Regions from separate parts of the Homo sapiens genome. Here region 2 is reported to be linked to region 1. Evidence: microRNA targets listed by miRTarBase, many of them from high-throughput screens and not tested one by one. Region 1 holds a microRNA gene; the other region holds the end of a gene's coding sequence.
Evidence for each region. The annotated mature microRNA hsa-miR-6743-5p reads AAGGGGCAGGGACGGGUGGCCC and lies in region 1 at 1,903-1,924, opposite strand. An mRNA with a match to its seed (bases 2 to 7 or 8) in the 3' UTR can be bound and repressed. Matches are read on the target gene's strand: a 7mer-m8 pairs with bases 2 to 8, a 7mer-A1 pairs with bases 2 to 7 and ends in A, and an 8mer does both.

Region 2: the mRNA of TPRA1 is a reported target of hsa-miR-6743-5p. Seed matches in the 3' UTR shown: 7mer-m8 at 1,339-1,345, 7mer-m8 at 1,345-1,351 and 7mer-m8 at 2,159-2,165.

What each region holds. Positions count from the first base shown.
Region 1 is chr11:207,117-211,264 of GRCh38, reverse strand. MIR6743 (microRNA 6743) reads right to left here and starts at 1,929; the gene lies at 1,859-1,929. BET1L (Bet1 golgi vesicular membrane trafficking protein like) reads left to right here and starts at 3,866. Exons shown (of 4, transcript NM_001098787.2): 1 at 3,866-3,962. The coding sequence starts at 3,944. It overlaps RIC8A (RIC8 guanine nucleotide exchange factor A), which reads right to left and starts at 3,557. Exons shown (of 10, transcript NM_001286134.2): 1 at 2,327-3,557; 2 at 1,947-1,994; 3 at 1,265-1,858; 4 at 603-694; 5 at 1-66. The coding sequence starts at 2,410. RefSeq lists enhancers at 1,689-2,276, 2,351-2,970, 2,946-3,115, 2,971-3,592, 4,139-4,148 and silencers at 2,175-2,284, 2,355-2,644, 2,645-2,843, 3,905-4,024, 4,135-4,148.
Region 2 is chr3:127,570,230-127,574,229 of GRCh38, reverse strand. It overlaps TPRA1 (transmembrane protein adipocyte associated 1), which reads left to right. Exons shown (of 11, transcript NM_001136053.4): 11 at 442-2,998. The coding sequence ends at 709. Among named protein-coding and RNA genes, the nearest start is that of MIR6825, 3.1 kb to the left of the region's middle.

The DNA of each region.
Region 1 (4,148 bases):
GGCTCCAGGGTGAGGAGAACATCCAGACACTTGAGGGGCAAGTTCCCCAGGAGGTTCACTGCGTGGCTGGGGACAGATGGAGGTAGGGGTTTCAACAGGGCTAATCCCTGAGCACAGGTGCAATCTTTGTGACTCCGCTGAACCACACATTACATGAGCTGGCATCTGAGTCCCAAAGGGGCAGCGCTAGGGACCAAAGCCAAGGGCAGGGACTGATCTGAGAGGCACTGCCACTCAGCTGTACAGTGGGGTCCCCTGGGGAAGTGGGGGCACTGAGACACACTGCCTCCCCGACCCTGTCTGAGCCAAAGCGCCAGACCATCTCTGGAAACCCAGACCAGCCTAGGGGCAGGTAGACCAAAAACGGGGACAAGGAACCAATGTGCCCTAGTAAGTACCATACTGTTGCCACTACCCAAGGCCCAGTTGGCACATTCCTGCCCCCAAATTCATGGCTATGTCCAGTCTCACTCACCCAGACAACGTCAGACTCTCTAGGGTGGGGCCTGGGCTCTCAGGTGGTTCTGGTTCAGAGCCGGGGTTGAGGACGACCATCTAGACATGTGGGCACACTTCCCTCCCAGAAAAAGCCCCATTCTCACCCGTGGAACTCCTCTGTGCGGTCTCCAGCAGTAGCGATCATCACACAGTGCCGGAGAAGGGTCCCCAGGTGTCGGTAAAGGGCAGCGTCTTCCTGACCAAAGAAAGAAGGGTTCCTGTGAGGAGCCCCACTCATCCCACTGCTGCCTGCTGAGGCTCCACTGTCTGTTGCACTCCAGGACTGTGTGGCAATGACTGTGCACCTCCTGTACTGCATACCTGGTCCCCTGGGGTCTTCCTAGGTGACTCTGGGTAGTGCTGGGGGCAAAAGATGACCACTGCTGTCTTCCTAAAAACTCCATGAGTATTCTTCTAAGAGCACTTCCCTGATTAGGAATGCTAACACATACCTTAGGGATGAAGTCACACTCTGTCTCAGCCCCACTCACAGCCTCATGGTGGAGGATCTCTTACAGTCTCCCCAGACACCACACAGCCCTCCTGCCAGGCAGCAAGAGCCAGAAGGGGCCTCTACTTCCCTCAGAAGCCTTTCCTGAGGTCCCAGCCCAGAACTGGCATCTCCTTGGCCTTGTCCCAACAGGCTGGGAGGTCCTGTCCTCTCCATGTCTGACACCCAGAAACCTGAAGGTACCCAGTAGGAAGCAGGTCCAGGAAATGTTGGAGCTGAGTTGAGACCCATCCATGGGTTAAGGTCAGTGCTCACCTCGTCCACCTCCCCCTTGATGGAGTCCAGGGTGATGTTGAAGAGCACTTTGAGGATCTCCATGGCCCGCTCAGTCTCTTGGGAAGGAAGGAGCGTGGGTGGGGGGTTCCCTTCAGGAGTCACCCCCAGCGTCAGCTCCAGTGTGTCAGTTAGCAGGCGCACTCCTTTCAGCTCCTGAAACAGCTGCTGGCGCACATCGGTGCGGAGTGCCGTTAGCAGGAAGAGGAGCCGCAAGTCAAAGAACTGGACATCGTGGGGGAAGCTCCTCTCACGGTACAGCCCCACACGCTCTGTGAGCTTCACCACTAGGCGGGCCTCTGCTGCCAGCATCTGTGCCACAGGGCTGCTGAGCACGAGGTTGCACAGGCACTTGAGGGACTCCAGTACAACATCCATGTCTGCGGACTCTGGGACGGACCCCTCAGAGACAGAGATGTCAGCATAGCAGGCTAGTGCCTGCAGGCTCTGGCGGCTGGTGAACGGGTCCAGGCAGTTGCGGTCCCGGGACAGGATTCGGACACTCTGCAGCCAGATGACACGGTGGGAGGGTGGCAAGCCCTGTTCCAGGACGGAGACCAGCAGCTCCGCCAGTCTCTGTGGGCAGGGAGAAGAGCGGCTCCACCAGGCCCTTCTTCCTGGGGCCACCCGTCCCTGCCCCTTTACCCCTTGGGCCAGCACCCACCTTCCGGTCCTCCTGTTGGGCATCATCAAACGTGAAGCTCTGGGAGTGCTGCAGAGAGAACTAGTGAATTCAAATCCACAGAGGGGTAGGATCCGCGTCCGCTGATGCGGGCGGCCTATTGGCCTCTAACTCAGGCAGCAGCCACTGCTCAGAACGGATGGCAGGGTCGGCACTCGCCCCCATCCCTACACGCCTGCCACCCAACGGGTGCACCCCCACTCTCCCCGCAACACTGCATCCCAGACCTGCCCCCCGCACCCCGCCGCGTCCCCTACGCTTGCTGACACAGCCTCTGCCTCACCCACGCCCTCCCTGCTACCCGCGCACGACCCTGCCCCACCCCCTCCGTGCCCGCCCCCCGGCCTCAGGCGGCCGCTTACCTCCTGGTTGTATGACCGCAGAGCTTCCATAATCACATCCTCCTCACCCGTCTCCACGGCTTCTGCAACCGCCCGGGGCTCCATGGCGCGCCGGGGAAGGCGGGACGGGCCCTTCCTCAGCCGTTCCGGGCCGCAGTTCGCCGGCCCCGCCCTGGCCCAGAAAGCCCCGCGCCAGCGCGCGGGGGAGGCCGGGACGGGGCGCGGCGTCTGGTGGCGCTTTAACGGGGCGCAGCGTCTGGTGGCGCTTTAAGGGGGCGCGGCCTGAGGCAGAACTGGCGGCTCGGAGGTTTTAAGACCCGAGTCGAGGGGCTGAGTCGCTCTGAACCGAACTGACCCCTCTCCTTGTGACCCGCGCTTCTTGGGCCAGAAGTTCCAACAGGAAACGATCTCAGCCCCCACCGTGCCCTGCCACACACACAGTGACGCCCCTCGAGCTCCACAGAACCGATGGGATGTAGAGGGGAAAGCCGAAGTGGAAAGGAATTTTCAGTCCTGGGCCATTGGGTTCGTTAGGCGTTTGCTGGGGAATGCAGGCGAACGGGATTCCCAGGTCCCTGCCTTTGTGGAGCTTATGTTCCAGAGGGGAAGGGGGACAAGGAAAAACAAAAGGACACGAGGCGGTCACAGGGCTGTGCTTCAAAAGAAGCAAAAGGCGACTGCTGGGCTGCAACGGGCTGTGAGGAAGTGCTGTTTTTGCTGACACCGGACGGTGGGAAGTGAGCCGGGAAAAGACTGGAGGAGCCACTCCAGGCAGAAGGAGCAGCACTTGCAAAGGTGGAGGGGCCGAGAGAAAGGGGAGCAACCCAGTCTGGCCTGGACTCAGTTCCCTCTTGAAAAGCAAAGATCCTGCGTGTCCGTTTCAGTGGCCGTCATGAGGATTCAGTGACGCACAGGAAGCGCGATCCACTCGCTCTTCTAACAAGTGCCCGGGAGCAAAGGCGTCTACGGCCCCCAGTCCCCGCGCCGCCTCCCAGTCTCTCTCCCGGCTTCACTTTCCTGTAGTGCGTTCTGTACGGCTGTATTCGACGCGGCGCGCACTCGCAGGCACGAGCGAGGCGCCGATCTCCACTTGACAGAGGAGGCACCCCTGCCCCCACCACACCCAGTGCTCCTCGCGGGCTTCTGCCCGAGGGGTCTGCTCCTTCCTCATGACCCGCCTGTGAATCCTTCCTAACCGTTAGGACCTAACCCACAGAAGCGTCTTTCCACCACCATCGTCTAGGCACTGAGCAAGCAAACGGCCCCGCCCCGCCCCACGTTCACAGGAACACCAAACGTCACATCCGCGGTGCTGCTGTAATCCCAGCACCTTGGGAGCCCGGCAGGCGGGGGCTGCAGTGAGCTGAGATCGCGCCACTGTCTGCGCGACAGTGCTGAAAATAAGCCACAGATATGCCCATCGCTTCCGCGCCCGGCAGTTCCCCACCCTCGGCCCTAAGCCGGAAGTCAGCGAGCCCGAAGCGGAAGGGGCTGGGCTATCTAGGGGCGTGGTCGGTGCGGAGGCGGGGCCATCGCTAGCTGGGGGCGGGGCCGGAAGCTCTTTCCCCGCGACTGCGCCACGTCTGAGGCGGCTGTGGCCGCGTCGGTGTCCGCGTCGAGGAGCCGGGGCAGGGCACGATGGCGGACTGGGCTCGGGGTGAGCGCGGGAGAGCGGAGCCGTTGGGGGCAGGGCCGGGCCGAAACCGACGCCGCTGCCTGTAGAGCCGCGTGCGCCTGCCTCTGGCCCAGCTGGGGTGACCTCGGCCGAGAGGACCCTGTCAGGGGGGCGGATTCGGATCCTTCCGGGTCCGAGCAGGGCCGGGTTTCGGCCGGCACTGCCGTT
Region 2 (4,000 bases), not on the chromosome of region 1:
TGTAGTGTGTCCCCCTTGGAGAGTTGCCCTGAGGGCCGAGGGACGAGGTCAGAGTGGAGTGGGTGGTAACATGAGCAGCAGGGGTCACAGGAGTGGGGGCGGAGGCCACAGCCAATGTCTCCTGAGTGCTTGGGCAGGCACTGTTGAAGCCTCATGATTTATGTCCATTCTTCCTCCACACGGTGTCCACACACCCATTTCACCATGAGGAAGCAGGCACAGATGCCCCCCGCCTGAGCTCACACAGCCAGGGGGAGGAGGGCTGGGTTCCAAAACAAGTCTAGATGGGCTCTGGGGTCCAGCTCACAGGCCCACTCAGAGTGGGTGTCAGGCGACTGTTGGTCAATTCCTTCCTTATCTGGTGGCCCCATCAGCCTGGAGAGGAAGGCTCTTCCTGAATCACTCAGTGAGGCTTCCATGCCCCTCTTTTCCTTTTATCAGCTCGGAGCCCAAGATCCTCTTCTCCTACAAATGCCAAGTGGACGAGACAGAGGAGCCAGATGTACACCTACCCCAGCCCTACGCTGTGGCCCGGCGGGAGGGCCTGGAGGCTGCAGGGGCTGCTGGGGCCTCAGCTGCCAGCTACTCGAGCACGCAGTTCGACTCTGCCGGCGGGGTGGCCTACCTGGATGACATCGCTTCCATGCCCTGCCACACTGGCAGCATCAACAGCACAGACAGCGAGCGCTGGAAGGCCATCAATGCCTGAGGGCAGCTGCCAGGGCCTGTGGAGGACAGGCCAGAGAGGAGGCCAGCAGGCCCAGAGTCCCCAGGGGAGGAGGACCAGGTCAAGGGACGTTCTGTGGGCAGTAGCCCTGTGTGGCCCTGTTCCCACCATGAGTCTGGAGGCCCCACCTCCCTGGGGCTCCCAATCCCCTTTGCCATCTCTGCTCTCACTGGGGACCCTCCTCCCCTTCCCACCTGCTCTCATACTGCTCAGTGACATGGCCCAGGCTTTCCTTCCAGGGCCATGCTTGGCAAGGTTGGCTGAGGGCACCCTCCTTCTCTGCACCCTTGGCACGAGGGCAGGGCTGGCTCTCCCAATGCCTCCATCCCATCCCCATGGTGCTTTGGCCTCCTCAAAGCATCCACCATGGTGGATGGACTGAAGTGTGTATATTTTCTTGATCTATTTTTTAATAAAAAGGAAAAGGAGCAGAAGGTGCTAATGTGGAGGTTTTGCAGGAATACTGGGGCTGGTTCCTTTCAGGAGCCTGAGGGCTGGGTGAGGGGCTGGGAGGCTCAGGGGGCCTCTGCTCAACCAAGGAGCAGTCCCCAGTGCCCAAGCCCTGGGCTGGCTGCTGGGGAGGTGAAGAGAAACAGGATCCCAGCTGCCGCTGCCCCTGCCCCTGGGCCCATCTGAGTAGGGGGGACAGACATGGAGAGAGAGGAGAACTATGTTTTGTGAGCCAGCCCCTCTCCCTTTGTCAGACACACACTGTTGTCTTGGGCAGCCGGTTCTCTCTGCTCAGCTCCATTAAAACGCAGAATGGACTTACTATTGCCATCTGTAAAATGCGGAGAAGACCCATCCTGCAGGGCCTTTTGTAAGGATTGGAAAACACTAAGCACGAGTGGCTGGCGTACAGTAATGAACGATAAGGATAGCTCTTATTTTTAGCCTCAAGAATAGTGCTTGGCACATAGTAGGCCCCCAGCAGACAGGACTCGGGGACTGATGTTTGTCATAAGGATGGGTGTGGTTGGCTGAAAATGGGAGTAAATCAGAGCAAAGCACTGGGATCATAAGGCATGAGTAGGGGAGAGGGGCCCACTTGTCCCTGCCACTGCCCTTGTACCTGAGTTCGGCTTTGAGCTTTTTGGCAGCCAGAGTGAAAGGGAGTTGCTGCCAGTTATGTAATCCCCAGAGTTGGAGAGGAGGAGCCCATCCAGGACACAGCCAACTGCATGCTTCAGAGCCTGGGGAGGTCTCAGCCCTGGCTGTGGGGACCCTGAGGATCAGGCTGTTGCCCGCCTCCGCGATCAGCCTTTTTTTTTTAGGGGGGAATGGGGTGCCGAGGGCACAAGCTCCAACACAGCTCATGTCTGTGGGGCCAATGTGTCAGGCTCCCTGGGAGGGCCTGGAGGGTTGATAGCGGACAGGGCCAACAGTACGGCCAGTGAGCTGGACTCCTGGGCTGCAGGGGGTACTGCAGGGTGCCCCTGAATGGCATACTTTATCGGGGCCTCTCAGCTCATGTAAAAGCCTGGTAATCAGGGAAGGCAAGCTCACGGCATTCTGAGTGAGCGGGGTAAGGGTTGGGGCCAGCAGGGATTTGACCATCAGATCCACATGCAGTCCAAGATGGCACAGTGTCAGCCGAAGTTTGCTGGCTGCAGTGAATGAGCAGAGAGGCATCAACAGAAGAAAAGAGACCATTTTTATAATTTTTAAGTTTGTTTTTTAAAAATAGGTCATATATGTACATGGCAAGAAAAAAAAAGGTTCATGCAGTACAGGAGGGTATTTGGTGAACGATAAATCTCCCTGTGTGGCACTGAATTCCTCTGTCCCCCTCCTGAAGCACCCAGGGTCTCCATAACCTTCCAGAGCCATCCTGTGTTCACACCAACGGATGTGTATATCATCCCTCTTTCTGTAATGCTAATGTCCTGTAGCTCACTCCAATGGATCTTGGAGATCATTCCATGTCAAGTGGAGGACTGCTTCACCCCTGCAGCTACATATATATGGATATATGGCAATTTATAAACCACTTCCCTTTTGTTTCTGAAAAATTTTGCAACAACAAACAAGGCAACATCAACAATCCTTATAAATTTGCTTTTGGTAACTCATGCAAGTAGAATTGCTGGAGCACACAGTCTTAATTAGTTTTAATTACTCTTATTAGTCTTCTGCAGAGATCAATAGTTGTCCTCCAATATATGTTGTTTTTCTCCATTGGAAGAGAATCCCTGATTTTTCGCTAGATACACAGCTGTCTAGAATAAAGACTGCATTTTCTAGCCTTCCTTGCAGGTGGGTTCTGGCCAATGGATGTAAGTATGCATGCAACTTCCTTAGAGATAAGAGGTGGCCCTTCTTTCCTGCTGACTGGAATGTGCTTATAATGGCTGGAGTGATAGCAGCCATCTTGAACCATAGGGTAATCTGGGGAATGGAAGTTTCTCATTGCAGTGCGACAGGATAGAGAGAGCCGGTGTCATGGACACTGTAGTGCATCTGTAACGACCTCGGACGTCCTACCTTCAGATGACTTTTGGAACGTATGAGAGAAATGAGTGGCTATCTTGTTCAAACCACTTTTGATGTTTCTCTTACAGTTGAACCTAATCTGAACCAAAACACCCATTCCAAGAGGCTATGCCAGCTTTCATTCCCACCGGCACATCCTCACTGACGTGGTATGCCAGTCACATTTTCAGTCTTTCTGAAGAGCCCTGCTCAGACCACGTCTGTGTGGTGTCTGGGTGCGAACAGGCATTAGGCAGAGGAGCGGCTGGATGCGAGGTTTCTGGAGTCTTAACGTGGTGACAGAGTTCACTGTATGTGGCCAAAGTCTAATCTCACCTTCCCACTGCTGCTGCACATGGACTGTGGACCTTGGGCAGGTCACAGCTTCTCCTTGATCCTCAGTTTCTTCACTAGTGGTACAGGGTAGCAGGTGACTGGTTGCCACTGGTATCCATTTTTCCTCCCTCAGTAACTGCACCCTCATGTTTGTGGGTCAGTGAAGCACCCACCTTAGAGGTGTCACCATTGAGAATTTAGGGAAGAAGACCTTGGACACAGGGTCCTCAGTTGCTGCCAAGCTCAGTGCCAGCCACATGGCCCTGAAGCAGCAGAGCTCTGAGACCTGCAGGTCCACCCACCCAGAGCACTGGAGCATGGTGATATAACGGGTGAACGCATGGCCAGTGATGTATGGGTTTGCCAGGGCTGCCATAACAAAGTACTATAGATGGGGGCCTTCAACAACAGGGGTTTATTTTCTTACAGTTCTGGAGGCTGGAATTCCAAGATCAAGGTGTCCAC